Regions from separate parts of the Homo sapiens genome. Here region 1 is linked to region 2. The links come from fine-mapping of genetic effects on gene expression. Tissue or cell type: tibial nerve. Region 2 holds a variant in brackets; the other region holds the start of a gene. All regions are shown on one strand. Distances are from middle to middle.

What was found. PIP is the estimated chance that this variant, and not a neighbour inherited with it, causes the effect.
Region 1: OR1L8 starts here. The variant in region 2 is fine-mapped to the expression of OR1L8 in tibial nerve (GTEx, PIP 0.96).

What each region holds. Positions count from the first base shown.
Region 1 is chr9:122,580,255-122,588,365 of GRCh38, reverse strand. OR1L8 (olfactory receptor family 1 subfamily L member 8) reads left to right here and starts at 4,982. Exons shown (of 5, transcript NM_001004454.2): 1 at 4,982-5,045. It also overlaps a transcript of OR1J2 not described here.
Region 2 is chr9:122,815,309-122,823,419 of GRCh38, reverse strand. PDCL (phosducin like) reads left to right here. Exons shown (of 4, transcript NM_005388.5): 3 at 223-404; 4 at 2,784-5,323. The coding sequence ends at 3,335. Among named protein-coding and RNA genes, the nearest start is that of PDCL, 9.2 kb to the left of the region's middle. The variant G/A (reference allele first, on the strand shown) is at 3,526.

The sequences.
Region 1 (8,111 bases), 240 kb after region 2:
AAAAAAAAAAAAAAAAGAATTTACAATCCTAAGTTGAAAATTATTTTCTCTTAGTCTTTGAAGATATTATTCAACTGTATTATGACTTCCATTGCTGGTGATTAGGAGATGTTTGCCAGTTTAATAATGATCCTTTGCATACAATTACTTTTCTCTTTTGCTGCTTTTAGCTTTTTATATATTTATTTTCCTCATTTGCATTATAATGTGTTTAGATGTAAATTTCCCTCATATAAGCTATTTGGGATCATTTGCTTGATGGATCTGAAAATTTGTCCTCTTCTTCTCAGCTTTATTTGGGCATAATATATATAATAGAATCTACCATTTAAAGTGTAAAATCTGATGAGTTTTGAGAAATATAAACACTTGCAGATCCACCAACACAATCAGGATGTAGAACACCACCATCCCGAAAGCTCCCTCATGCTCCTTTGTAGCCAATCCTCTCCCCTACTCAATGCTCCTAATAGTCATCAATGTTCTTTCTGTTGCTATAGTTTTGCCTTTTCCAAAATTTCATATTAATAGAATCATTCAGTATATTTTTTACACCTGACTTCCTTCACTTTGCATACTAATTTTGAGATTTATCTATGCTGTTATATGTATTCACAGTTTTTTCCCCTTTGCTGGTTAGTATTCCACTGCGTAGACATAACACAGTTTATCTGTTCACTAGCTGATGGACATTTGGGTTGTTTTTAGTTTTTGTTTGTTATGATTAAAGTGTCTATGCATACGAATCTTTATGTCAAGAGAATTTTATTTCTCTTGGGTAAATATACAGGACTGAAATTGCTTGGGTCAAATGCATGTTTAACTTTATGAAAAACTGACACTGCTTTCCAAAATGGCTCTACATAATGCATTACTACAGCCAGTGATTGGGAGTTCTAATTTCTACATGTCCTTACTACCAACTGGGATTGTCAGTCATTTGAATTTTAGCCATTCTAATGGGTTTGTCATGGTATTTCATTTGGTTTTCACTTCCATTTATCTAATTATGAAAGATGCTGAGTGTCTTTACAAATGCTGATATACTATATATCTTCTTTGATGAAGTATCTGTTCAAATCTTTTGCACACAGTTTTTTAAATAATTGGATTGTTTTCCTTCTGTAGATACTACACATTCAATAATTCCTTAGAGATCTGTTTTGCAAATATTTTCTGCCAGCCTGAGGCGTGGCTTTTTATTGAGTGTCTTTTTTTTTTTTTTTTCAAGATGGAGTCTCGATCTGTCACCCAGGCTGCAGTGCAATGGCATGATCTTGGCCCACTGCAACCTCCACCTCCCAGGTTCAAGCAATTCTCCTGCCTCAGCCTCCCGAGTAGCTGGGATTACAGGTGTCCACCACCATGCCCAGCTAATTTCTGTATTTTTAGTAGAGATGGGGTTTCACTATGTTGGTCAGGCTGGTCTTGAACTCCTGACCTCAGGTGATCTGCCCACCTCAGCCTCCCAAAGTGCTGGGATTACAGGCGTGAGCCACCGTGCCCAGCCTATTGAGTGTCTTTTGAAGAGCAAATGCATTTTATTTTTATGAAGTCTAAATTAGAAATTTTTCTTTTGTAGTTCATGATTTTTGTGTCCTATTTAAGAAAATTTTTGCCTACCCCAAGTTTGCCAGGATTTTTTTCCAATGTCTTCTTCTAATAGTTTTATAGTTATAGTTCTTACATGTTTGGCCCATTTCAAGTTTTTTTTGTATATGGTACAGCATAAGAGCCTATGTTCATTTAATTTAAGATATATTGATAGTGATTGTTCTAGCCTCATTTGTTGAAAACTATCATTTCCATATCGAATTGCCTTGGTGCATTTGTAAAAAATTAATTGACCATACACATATTGGTCTATTTTAAGATTTTCATTTATATATATATGCCTATCCTTATGCAATTATCAAATTATCTTCATTGTTATGAATTTATAGGAAGTTTAAAATTATATAAAGTTCTCTGGTTTTGTTTTCCACTTTTAAGTTGTTTTTGCTCTTCTGGTTTCTTTTTATATCCATATAAAATAATTAGCTTCTAAAATAGCCTGCTAAGATTTTGATTTAGATTGCATTGAATCTATAGATCAATCTGGGTAGAACTGACACCATGATATTGAGTAATCTAATCTATATGCAAGGTATATCTCTTCATTTATTTGAATCTTCTTTAATGCTTTATAGTTTTTAATGTATAATATGTTCACATATTGTTAAATTTGTCCTTATGTATTTCTTAGTTTTTATACTGTCATAAATTTCATGTTAAAAATTTAAATTCTCAATTGTTCACTGCTAGGACATGGGAGTTCCATTGATTGAAACTGGACTCCTATCTCTCACTTTGTACAAAAATTAACTCAAGATGGATTAAAGACCTAAATGTAATACCTGAAACTATAAAAATCCTAGAAGAAAACCTAGGAAATTTTTTATGAATTTAAAATAAATTTATTAACATATAATTCACATACAATAAAATTTACTTTATAACAGTATAACACTTTAAAAAGTGTTCCATTTAGTTGTTTTTAGTATAGTCCCAGAATTGTGCACCCATCACAACTGTTTAGCATTAGAATATTTTCATTACCATAAAAACTAACCCTGCACCCATTAGCAGTCACTCCCATTTACCTTCCCCGTGGTGCTGGAAACTACTAGAGGTACATCAAAATGAATGTTCCACCCAGCCTTTTCTAGTGATACTTTCTCCAGCCTCAGGTAGTTTATTCACACACATGTTCAGATCTAAACCCAGTCAAAGGCCCAAGAAAGCCCACCAGAAAATATCTGATATTTCTCTCTGCACAATTTCCTTTTTTCTGGTATTGTCCCAAGAATTCTAGCTTTCTTGGCTTCCCTGGCCAACATGGTGAAACGCGGTCTCCACTAAAAATACAAAAATTAGCTGGGCGTGGTGGTGCACACCTGCAGTCCCAGCTACTAGGGAAGCTGAGGCTTCCCTGGTCTTCAAACATTGTCTCCTCAACTAAAAGAGTTTGCTGGAATATTTTTGATTTTTCCTTTCTACAGTGAAGCCTGGAAATGCTCTCCAGATAGTAGGACTGAAAATAAGAAAGATCATCCCTAAGTTTCCAACCTTGTTGAGGATAGCTGTTTTGCATAGCCTTTTAAAAATAGCTTTGTTCATATAATTCCTATACCATAAAATTCAGTGTAATTTCAGTAAATTCAGTAAATTTAATTCAGAGTCGTAAAATTCTCCCAACTATCTCATTTTGAAACATTTTCATAACCCAAAATCTAGTACCCATTAGCAGTAAGTCATTATTCTACCTTGTCCCCAACCCCTAGGAACAACCCATCTACTTTCTTTCCCTATGGATTTGCCTCTTATAGACATGTCATGTAAATGGAATCATATAATGTGGCCCTTTTATACTAGCTTCTTTCATTTTGCATAATGTTGTATATATATACACACATTATATACATATATACACACATATACACACACACACACACACACACACATATATATATATATATATATATTTTAGACAGTCTTGCTCTGTCACCAAGGCTGTAGTGCATTCGTGCAATCTTGGCTCACTGCAACCTCCACCTCCTGGATTCAAGCAATTCTCATGCCTCAGCTTCCCTAGGAGCTGGAAGTGCAGGTGTGCATCTCCACGCCCAGCTAATTTTTGTATTTTTAGTAGAGATGGCGTTTCACTATGTTGGCCAGGCTGGTCTCGAGCTCCTGGCCTCAAAAGATCCGACCCCCCACCCCCGCCTCCCAAAGTACTGGGATTACAGGCATGAGCAACCATGCCCAGCCCATGTTTTCAAGGTCTGTCCATGTTGTAGCATGAATCAGTACCCTCACAGACAAACCCAGGAGCAATACTGTGCATCCTTTAATCCAATCACGTTGACACTCACTATTAACCATCACAGTTGACTAGAAGTGGCAAGTACTGTCATCTTTATCTAGTTCTTGATCTTAGGAGGAAAGCACTCAGTATTTCACCCTAGAGTATGATGTTAGCTGTGAGGTTTTCATAGACGCCTTTTATCAGGTTAAAAAAGTTTTCAAGCTTTCCCGGCTTGTTAAGTGTTTTATCATGAAAGGGTGTTGAAGTTTGTTTGATGCTTTTTCTTCACCTATCAAGATGATCATATGGTTTTTTACATTTTTATTCTTAATATGGTGTATTACATTGATTTCTATAACTTATGAATATATATTTTACTACCTATTATAAATATATTTACATAGCTGATTTAAAGTCTTTGTTTAGTAATTCCAACATCTGGACTACCTCAGAAACAGTTTCTATCTTTCTGGCTACATTTGCCAGGTATTTTTTTTTTAACTAGATATGGGGTCTCACTTTGTGGCCCAGGTTGGTCTCAAACTACAGGGCTCAAGTGAGCCTCCCACCTCAGCCTCCTAGAGTGCTGGATTACATGCTAGCTTTTGTTGTTGCTTTTTTTAGGAGCAGATTTTCTGAAGTCCTTACACTTCAATTCTGAAAATTCTATCTCCCCATGCTACCTTTTTCAATATCTAAAATCACTTGCTTTGTACATTTTGTCTGGCTTTCCTGATGTTTATTTATTTACTAACTAATGTTCACACTTTATTCCTAGTTCCTTACTTTTTCTTTTTTCCTTTTTTTAACACAGAGTCTTGCTCTTGTCACCCAGGCTGGAGTGCAGTGGCACGATCTCTGCTCACTGCAATCTCCACCTCCTAGGTTCAAGTGATTCTCCTGCCTCAGCCTCCCAAGTAGCTGAGATTACAAGCACACACCACCATGCCCGGCTAATTTTTTTTTATTTTTAGTAGAGATGGGGTTTCACCATGATGGCTAGGCTGGTCTCAAACCCCTGACCTCAGGTGATCCACCAGCCTCGGCCTCCCAAAATGCTGGGATTACAGGCGTGAGCCAGTGCGCTCGGCCTATTTCCTTACTTTTAAAATCTAATATCCTTTTTTTGTGTTCCAGGATCCCATCGAGGATATTATATTATATTCAGTCATCCTGTCTCCTTCGGCTTCTCTTGACTGTGAGTTTCTCATATTTTACTGTTTTTTTTTTTGTTTGATGACCCTGACAGTTTTAAGGAATATTGATGAAATATTTTATAGAATGTCTCTCAGTTGGGATTTGCCTGATTGTTTTGCAAAATCAGACTAGAGTGAATAGGGGCGTATCCATTTATTGTTTACTCCATGTTGTCCCACATGGAAGTTTTCCTGAACATTGGTCTTTTGCCTCTTTTGGAAAGTATTTATAAATTTACACATCAAAACGTATTGCTATTCCTGTTTATTGAGTCTCTGATTATATTATGTTAAAATAATATAATAAAATAATCCCATTTCCTTATTCTTTTATATTCTCTCTCTGCTATAATCTATATGATTTAGCTCTATTTTTTATTTAATTCTCTTTTGAGCTGTATCTAAATTGCTGTTGAGCTGCTTTTAGTTTTCATTTTAATTACACTTTTATTTCTAGAGATTTTTATTTTGTTCTCATATATATGTACTCCTGATTATTTTTAAATTGTGGCTACTAACTTTTTTAGTCTCATTCTGTTGTTATTTCTGCTAACTCTTGCTCATTATGTCTTTTTTTCCTTTAACTTAAAAAAATAACTTTTTTTAAGAGACAGGGTCTCACTCTGTCAACCCAGCTGTAGTGCAATGGGGTGTAGCTTACTGTAGCCTCAAACTCCTGGGCTCAAGTGATCCTTCCATGTCAGCCTCCTGCATAGCTGGGACTACAGGTGTGTACTACTATGCCCAGCTAATTTTTTTTTTAATTTTGTGCAGAGATAAGATCTTGCTATGTTGCCCATGCTGGCCCCAAACTCCCGAACTCAAGTGATCCTCTTGCCTAGGCTTCCCAGAGTGCTGGGATTATAAGCGTGAGCCACTGCGCCGAGCCTTGTTTGTATTTTTTAAACTCATAAATTTTGGAACTTTATCTCTAGAAAGTCTTTGAAGTCTGGGCTTAAACCATTTTCCAGAAAGGATTTTTGTTTACTTTTACCTAATTCCAACGTAAACCAAATTCTTCTTAGTTTATTATTTTTAAGCCATGGATGCAGTTTGAGTGTATTCTCAATCTTTCATTAGACGTTGATACTTCTCAGAAGTTTAAAAATATATCCTTGTCAAAAACGCAACACTTCTCAGAAGTTTTAAAAAATATGGTTAAGTCAAAAACGCAGAAAAAGAAATTTGCTTTTTCTTGCTATCTCCAAAAATAAATTAGACTTAAAAAAAATAATTCTTACACTATGAGCTTAGTCCTTCAGTGGTCCTAGCTTTAGGGAAAGGTCTCCAATACCATGATCTCCTCCCCATGCTTTGACACCGTGCTTTGTCTCTTGTTTCTTGTGAAGCTTTAAGAAATAAAGTTCTGTCTTTATTTACTTATTTATTCATTTATTTATTTATTTATTTTGAGATGGAGTCTCACTGTATCGCCCAGGCTGGAGTGCAGTGTCGTGATCTCGGCTCACTGCAACCTCCACCTTTTGGGTTCAAGCAATTGATGTGTACCACCACATCCTGCTGATTTTTCTAGTTTTAGTAGAGACAGGGTTTCACCATGTTGGCCAGGCTGGTCTCAAACTCCTGACCTCAGGTGATCTACCCGCCTCAGCCTCCCAAAGTGCTGGGATTACAGACATGAGCCACTGTGCCCGGCCTCTGTCTTTATTTTTAAAGAAGATTGGCACTCGCTTACCTCTGTGAATTCACATTTTCTTGGTATTTCTAGACTTCTAAATTTTATTTTTCTTACAAGGAAGTAGATATATCTAGGAGTTTTGAAATGAAAATGTGTTCTATGCATTTAGTTTGCCTAATTGCTAGAAACAGGAGTCCTACAAAGATTTTTGAAAATTTTTTGGAAGTCTAATTATAATGACCTACCTTTTTACCTAACTGTAATTGCTTTGACTGATGATCATAATATAATATTTGTCACTTTTTTTTTGTTTTGTTTTGAGACGGAGTCTTGCTCTGTCGCCAGGCTGGAGTGCAGTGGCGCCATCTCGGCTCACTACAACCGCCGCCTCCTGGGTTCAAGAGATTCTTGTGCCTCAGCCTCCCAAGTAGCTGGGATTACAGGCACATGCCACCATACCCAGCTAATTTTTGTATTTTTAGTAGAGACGGGGTTTCAGTGTGTTGGCCAGGATGGTCTCGATCTCCTGACCTCGTGATCTGCCTACCTCAACCTCCCAAAGTGCTGGGATTACAGGTGTGAGCCACTGTGCCCAGCCCATATTTGTCACTATTATGAAATAAATATAAACCATTATAATTATATTTAATATTCAGTCGAATTCTTTTTAGAGCTGGCCTTAGAGAGACACTGAGTATTGCTTAATTTTATAAATAAAGGCCTATTGCTCATTCTAGGACCTTATTTTATTGTAGCTGTGCTGTGGTGTGTTCTTATTACTAAAAGAAAGCAAATTACCATTATAGTAGTTACTTGGGACACTTTTTAGTAGTTTTATTGATCCACAGTGTAGTAGCTTCAGCCTAGAACAAAAGTATATTTTTTAACAACCCCAAAACAAAAAACAAATACAACACAAACATACCCTGACACCAGCACAGTCTTATCACACTTTTAATTCCCTCATAATACAATACAACAACCATTCTTTTATTAATGGAGGATGGGGTAGGGAGTATGTTATCAGTAGACTTAGAAAAAATTAGCTTAGTCATTGAAACCTTTGCCTTTTTTCTAGGAATTCCTTTCTCATATTCTTGTGTCTTCTTGGCATTGTTACGATCTTCAGCATGAGTCATATGCCCTGAAAAATGCAGACTGTACTAAATACCTTAGCACTGGTGTTCCTCTGCTTTGACCATATGGAAACTTACATTATTACAGATTAGACCTATCAACTAAGGGAAACAGAAAGGTTATTATTCAATGGTTTTATTTGTAAATGATCATTGGCACTCGGCATTCATTCTGACCGCATTCTAGTGTGCCATCCTGTACGTCGAAGGCTAGAAATAAAAAGAATACATTTCCTAGAATTCTTTACAGTTAGAGTCCTCAATATGAATTAGTTGGGTGCACTTATATGAAA
Region 2 (8,111 bases):
AAACTCATCTCCTAATGTTGGGCATTAGCTTGGCCCTTGTTGCAGGGTACATCATTGTGTATAGGCCACTCTGCCCTGTGGCAGAGTACACAGAGTCCCTATGATAATTGTGCAGTAGATGGAGCAAGCTTCAGGCAGATGTGAACTCCTACCTACAGATGTCAGCTGGTCCATAATTCCCTGCCCATTCTCCTTGGTCACATCCGTGTTCACCCTACTCAGGCCCAAAAGGTGTGATCAATGACTGGCGCCGCTTCAAGCAGTTGGAGACAGAGCAGAGGGAGGAGCAGTGCCGGGAGATGGAAAGGCTGATCAAGAAGCTGTCAATGACTTGCAGGTCCCATCTGGATGAAGAGGAGGAGCAACAGAAACAGAAAGACCTCCAGGAGAAGATCAGTGGGAAGGTAATTAGCAGTACTCAGGCTTTTCTTAGAGTCTGCTGTGGCTGCTAGAGCTGGGTGAGTGATTCAAGAGGTGGAGGATGCTTGATTTGACCTCCAAGAAGTTGTGCAGTGCAGGAGAAATCATAGAGCCCTGTCAAAACTCAAACCCACCCAGCTTTGGATCTCAGTTCTGCTACTAGTGACTGTGGGAGAGTCTCTTCCCTTCTGAATCTGGTGTTTCAATGGTTAAATGATGTATCCTCCCCGTGCAGGGCTGTGTTGTTAATATGCCCATCACAGTGTCTGGCCCATTGAAAGTGCTCAGTAAATTTTAGTTTCCCTTCTTTTATTGAGGTTTTATCTTGGGCCAGAAATAACCCTCTTAGGGTGGTGGTATTATCCCCTTCTTACAGATAATGGAAGCAATGCTTAGAGGGCATTAGAGGCTTGTTCAGGGCAATGCAACTGGTAAATTCTAGTAGGCGCTAGGGTTCTAACCCAAATACTCCTGTTTCTTCCATGATGTTGCTATTTCATCTGAAGCCTATTCATGAGAATTTATTCTAAGGAGGCATTATAATAAGCAAACAGATACTCTGGAAGATATTTGGAAGTAGGCACCTGATGGCCTTTTTTTTTTTTTTTTTAATAGAGACAGGGTCTATGTTGCCCAGGCTGGTCTCGGAACTCCTGAGGTCAAGGGACCCTCCCACCATAGCCTCCCAAAGTGCTAGGATTACAGGCGTGAGCCGTGGTGCCCGGCCCGTGATGGCCTCTTATCCTATCAGTATTAAAAGGGATTCACTGTTTCTCTGGATGCCCTCTGAGTGTGGACGAATGTCTGTGAGTGCCTGAGATCATTTAGTTATGGCCCAAAGCTAAAATACCACACAGGATCAGGGAGCAGATAAGAGGATTAAGCTGGGAATCATTCACCTTGACCAGGAGGCTGATTTTAGGACATTACACTTAGCCAAAGACTTCAATAGGTCAGAAGAAGCCACTCTGGTAGACTGAGTTGAAGTGGAGGGCTGCAAGATGGGAGGAAAATTGGCAATAAGTAAAATAGTGAACTCAGAATGTTGCTGGTTATGATAAAGTAACAACGTGTTCTGATCTAGTGTGATCTCCCACTCCCTGTTCCCTAATCTATGCAACATTAGGCAGAGTTAGGTTTTATGAGAGGAGCGAGGATGTCTTGCTGCACCGGGGCAGGGGTAAGATGCTTTCGTAGCTTAAGCTGTCTCTTGGGCATTGTGCCTGCTGCTCACAGCTGCTTCCTGATACTGAGGTGAGAGGCCAGAATGAGGCAACATCATATCATCACATGGATCAGTCTTGTGAGAGGCTGTTCCCGTCCTGCTGATTTATCTGCAATAGAACAGAATTGGAAACTGTCTGGCAGAATTAGGGAAGTGATTAAGCAAAGTGACACATTATATATAATTTCATAAAAATATTTGGAAACATGAGGAAATACTTATAATCGTGCTAAGTCTCGAAAGCAGGTTATGGCTTAATTGGTACACCCACAGCTGCTGCTATAAAAGCAAAACTATTTTAGTATGACTGGTAATAAAAATAATTTTTAGAGTCCATATGACTCTGTGTGTGTGTGTGTGTTTGGGGATGGTGTGGGGCAGGGGTTATGAGAGTTTTTTCTAAAATTCTGTAATGTCTTGTTATCTTTCAAAAAAAAAGTAGATAAAATATTGTCAAGACTGACAAAAAGAAATAAGCTCATGAAGTGAGATTATATGATGCTGCCTATTTGGATTGAGAGGAAATGTGATATTGTAGTTAAAAACATGGGTTTTTAAAATCTAGTTTGAGTACTGGTCTTATGCTTACTGGGTGAACTTGTTCAAATAATGTCAAGTTTTGGAACCTCATTTATAAAGTGGGGCTATTAAAAGTCCCTTCCCGATGGAGTTATGGAATTCAGTGAGATATAATGCATGTAAAGTACTTAGCATGGTGCCTTATATATTATCAGCATGTAGTACATGTTAACTGTTTTATTTCTTTTTATTTTTTTGGAGACAGGGTATCACCCTGTCTCCCAGGCTGGAGTGCACTGGTGTGATCTTGGCTAACTGCAACCTCTGCCTCCCAGGTTCAAGTGATTCTTGTTGTGCCTCAGCCTCCAGTGTAGCTGGGACCACAGGTGCACACCACCATGCCCTGCTAACTTTTTTTTTTTTTTTTTTTTTTAAGGAGAGATGAGGCTTTGCCATGTTGGCCAGGCTGGTCTTGAACTCCTGACCTCAAGTGATCCGCTCGTCTCAGCCTCCCAAAGTGCTAGGATTACAGGCGTGAGCCACCGCGCCCGGCCCATATTAACTGTTATCACGAGTGTTCAGTTTTCATATTTATGCTCACTTGCTGGTCCGCCTGCAGATGACTCTGAAGGAGTTTGCCATAATGAATGAGGACCAAGATGATGAAGAGTTTCTGCAGCAGTACCGGAAGCAGCGAATGGAAGAGATGCGGCAGCAGCTTCACAAGGGGCCCCAATTCAAGCAGGTTTTTGAGATCTCCAGTGGAGAAGGGTTTTTAGACATGATTGATAAAGAACAGAAAAGCATTGTCATCATGGTTCATATTTATGAGGATGGCATTCCAGGGACCGAAGCCATGAATGGTTGCATGATCTGCCTTGCCGCAGAGTACCCAGCTGTCAAGTTCTGCAAGGTGAAGAGCTCAGTTATTGGCGCCAGCAGTCAGTTCACCAGGAATGCCCTTCCTGCCCTGCTGATCTATAAGGGGGGTGAATTGATCGGCAATTTTGTTCGTGTTACTGACCAGCTGGGGGATGATTTCTTTGCTGTGGACCTTGAAGCTTTTCTCCAGGAATTTGGATTACTCCCAGAAAAGGAAGTCTTGGTGCTGACATCTGTGCGTAACTCTGCCACGTGTCACAGTGAGGATAGCGACCTGGAAATAGATTGAACTGATAGTCTAGTTGCATAGATTTCTCATTGTTTGGGTTGGAATACACGTCATTGTTTATTTTTGTTCCTTTGTCTTCTGGCTTTTCAGCTGTTCTTTGTAGTCCCTTTTATTATGCATAAAATAAAGAAATTCTTAGATTAAATCAGAATGCTGAATAACCTTGTAGCTAGCAATAAGGTGACTTACA[G/A]TTGTATAAACAGGAAGCCAGGCTTTTGAACTGTTTACTTAAGATTCTGTGGTGTGACATCTCTGTTATTGTTTCCAGTCAATATTTACAAAGCATCCTAAAGACAGGGTCTTGGAAATTGTCTTCAGATGATCTTAGAGGTCTCTGCCAAGTCTGAGAGTATAATTCTGTAGGTATTGTGTTATTTGCAACGTAAATAGTGCATTTTCTTAATCAAATGATTGTAAATTATATTTACTTGTAATCAGTTCCATAGCTTTAGACGGTGGTTAGATTTTTTTTTTCCCCACCAGGGTCTTGTTTAAAGGGGTGAGCCACCGCACCCAGTCCTGAGGGGTGGCCTCTGCTGCTGGATTTCATGTCTTCCTCCAGCATGACTAAGTCTGGAACAGCAGGAAGGGTTGATGCTTACTGACCTGGTGATGTTAGAAGACAAGTAGTTTATGGATTTAAACATTAGAGCTGGAGTGGGGCTGGAAATCTTTGTAAAGGAAGTTCTTTCAGTAAGATGCCCCTGCTTGTCTTTGTCTCTTTTTTGTTTAACAAGGTAACTTTTTGTTTAACAAGGTAACTTTTTGTTTAACCTAGATTTTTTTTAAAACTTTTTTTTTTTTTCATATTGGAAAAGTAATTCATATTCAGTAGAGGAAAACTGACCAAAACAGAAGCAAAAATAAGAAAATTAAAATAATCTCTAATCCTACTACCTAGAATAAAACACTATTAATATTTTGGTCTGTTTCCTGCCAAGGTGTTTTCTGTGTATACATGGATATTTTGTTTGTTTTTAAACAAAACGATGGGATCATTCTGAACATACTGTTCTATAGTATGGTCAGCTAATAATATATCAGACCTTTTTTTATATTATTAAATATTCTACAACTTTTTAAAAATGTCTATTAATATTCCATCGTATAGATGTGATATAATTTGCTTGATGGTTGTCTCTTAAAAAGAAAGATAGCAAATACTTTTTTTAAATTACAAAAGTGATAGATGTTCATTGTAGAAAATGTAATAAACACTGTTAAGACTTAAAAGCCATATAATTCCACCAACCAAAATTAATCCCTTTTGTCATATTTCTAGTCATTTTTATAGCCTTTTTTTCTATGTATTTATAATAATTATCATTTGCGTTTTTTTCCTTTTTTTAACTTTAAAAATGTATATTCTAGGGTCAGGGGAAATGTAATCTGGAATTAAATATTAGCCTTAAAATTCACAATTTTGATTTTCCTGGCTTTTCAGGAATTGACTAACTGTAAAAGAGTCTTGAAAGTATTTAGTCAACAAACAGAGTGCATTTTTTTTTTTTTTGACTAAGAAAGCTCGTTGTAGTAGAAAGGGTGGAATGTATTGAAAATTATTAGAAGCAGGGAAGTATTGTTAGTCTAGCTTATTTCCTTTCAGTCTTTTTTCAATATTTTTATAAACATTGAGTACTTACTGAATTTAGTTCTGTGCTCTTCCTTATTTAGTGTTGTATCATAAATACTTTGATGTTTCAAACATTCTAAATAAATAATTTTCAGTGGCTTCATAATATTTCATCATTTGGATATATAATAATTTATTTAACCAGTCTCTTTATTTTTATTTATTTATTTTGTTTGTTTTCTTTGAGATGGAGTCTCGCTCTGTCACCCAGGCTGGAGTACAATAGCGTGATCTCGGCTCACTGCAACCTCCACCTCCTGGGTTCAAGCAGTTCTCCTGCCTCAGCCTCCTGAGTAGCTGGGACTACAGGCACATGCCATCACGCCTGGCTAATTTTTGTATTTTTACTAGAGACGGGGTTTCACCATGTTGGCCAGACTGGTCTCAAGCTCCTGACCTCAGGTAATCTGCCCGCCTCGGCCTCCTAAAGTGCCGGGATTACAGGCGTGAGCACGCTGCACGGCCTAACCAATCTCTTTATATTGGTTATTTAGATTCTCAGTGTTTTGCTGAACACTTAATGCCTTTGTGTTTTGGGCTATATTTTGAATTATTCTCATAGATTTCTAGAAGAGGAATTACTGGGCAAATAGGGACACTTAAAAATAGCTTTTACAAACCATCTTCTGTTCTCATTGAAAATGAGAATATATTATGCACTTACAGGGAACTTGACTTTGCTTTTCAAGAACAGAAGTTCTAAAATACAGTAGGGCTGGGTGTGGTGGTTCATGCCTGTAATTCCAGCACTTTGGGAGGCTGAGGCAGACATAGTGAGGCCTCATCTCTACAAAAAATAGAAAAAATTAGCTGGGCACGGTGTTGTACCTCTAGTCCCAGCTACTTGGGAGGCTTAGTCAGGAGGATCTCTTGAGCCTGGGAGGTCAAGGCTGCAGTGAACCATGATTGCACTCCAACCTGGGCGACAGAGACCCTGTCTCAAAAAAAAAAAAAAAAAAAAAAATTAAAAAAAAGAGTAGACATGTAATGGTAATGGAGAAATCCTAGACTTTTTTTTTTGGAGATGGTGTCTCACTCTGTTGCCCAGGCTGGAGTACAGTGGCACAATCTCAGGTTACTGCAACCTCCGCCTCCTGGATTCAAACGATTCTCCTGCCTCAGCCTCCTGAGTAGCTGGGATTACAGGTGCCTGCCACCATGCCTGGCTAATTTTTGTATTTTTAGTAGAGATGGGGTTTCACCATGTTAGCCAGGCTGGTCTCGAACTCCTGACCTCAGGTGATCACCTGCCTCGGCCTCCCAAAGTGCTGGGATTACAGGCATGAGCCATCGCATCGGGCCGAGAATGTTAGATCTCTTAACTTTGGTGTCGTGGAAGCAGCATGGGCTTTAGAGTCAGGCAGATCTGGGTTCAAATCCTGTCTGGCAGTCTAGTGGTGTAGCTTCTTTCTGGTAAGAAACCTACCTTTCCTGATGCTCAGTTTCCTCATCTGTAAAATGGGAACAAAAATAACCTGTTTTGTGGAGTTGTTCTGTGACGGTGGTTCTCATGTGTGGTAGCTGGGGCAGCACCAGCAGCAGTGGCGGCCTCAGCATCACCTGGGAACTTGTCAGAAATGCAAATTCTCGGGCTTCACCCTAGACCTCCTGAATCAGGAATTCTGGGAATGACTAGGCAAACTATTTTCATGAGCCCTGTAGGTGATTCTGAAGCTTGTTCAAGTTTGAGAGTCACTGACCTATGGATTAAGGTGAGTGAGTGCACCTGTGACAGAACAAGTGCTCACTGCTCTTGGTTTCCTTATTAAAAGAGGGAGGGAGTTGAAATGGGGTAGCTCTCAGATTGCCTCTCTCCTGTTTTATTTTGTGATTCTCCCTTTTAGCCATGGAATTGGGGGAAGGAAAGAGGAACCATTTGTCTATCACAAACTGTCCCAGAGTCTTCCAGATTTCACGTTTGGAATGAAAGTCTCAGGAAGGCACGGACTTTGTTTTCTTCCTCATGTATGGCATAGAGCAGCGGTCCCCAACCCCTGGGCCACAGATCAGTATCGTTCTGTGGCCTGTTAGGAACCAGGCTGCACAGCAGGAAGTGAGCGGCGGGCCAGCAAGCTAAGCTTCATCTGTTTTTACAGCCGCTTCCCATTGCTTCCGTTACTGCCTGAGCCCCACCTCCTGTTAGATCAGCGGTGGCATTAGATTCTCATAGGAGTGCGAACCCTATTGTGAACTGCCCACGCGAGGGATGTAGGTTGTCCGCTGCTTATGAGAATCCAGCACCTGCCGATCTGTCACTGTTCCCCGTCACCCTCAGATGGGACCGTCTAGTTGTAGGAAAACAAGCTCAGGGCTCCCACTGATTCTACATTTTGGTGAGTTGTATAATTGTTATGTATTGCAATGTAATAATAATAGAAATAAAGTGTACGATAAATGCAATGCGCTTGAATCATCCTGAAACTCCCCCCACCCAACCCCAGTCTGTGGAAAAATTGTTTTCCAGGAAACCGTTCCCTGGTGCCAAAAAGGTTGGGGACCACTGGCATAGAGTAAGGGCTTGGTCTCTAGGCACAGCCTGATACTACCTTTGGAAGCAAGATGCTGAATCCCTCCATGCCTCAGTTTCCTCATCTGTGAAATGCTGATAGTAACATGAGTCAATTAATATAAAGTACCTGGAACACACAGAAGTGTTTTTATTGGTCTAGTGCCCACACTGTGCTTGGCACTTGGCAAAAGATGAATAAACATTTAAGAATGAACACATTGACTCATTGAATGGCACATCTTTTCAAAGTAGGAAGTAGTAACTGTTCAAAGGTGTAGAAACCAAGACTTAGCAGAGTTAAGTGACATTTCAACTTATACAGCTAGTGGGCAGGGCAGGATTAAAATCAGGTTTGTGAAGTTCCAACATTTGTACTATTTTCCTGATGTCATATTCTTGATGGAGAAAGCAAACTGATCAAGTGACAATAAAATAGAAACATTGAAAGACAGTGGAGAGAATAGAGGAAGGAAATAAAGAAGATAATTTATTTTTACTCATTTATTTATTTCATTATTTTTATTTATTTTTTTGAGTCAGAGCCTAGCTCTGTCGCCCAGGCAGGAGTGCAGTGGCGTGATCTCAACTCACTGCAACCTCTGCCTCCCGGGTTCAAGCGATTCTCCTGCCTCAG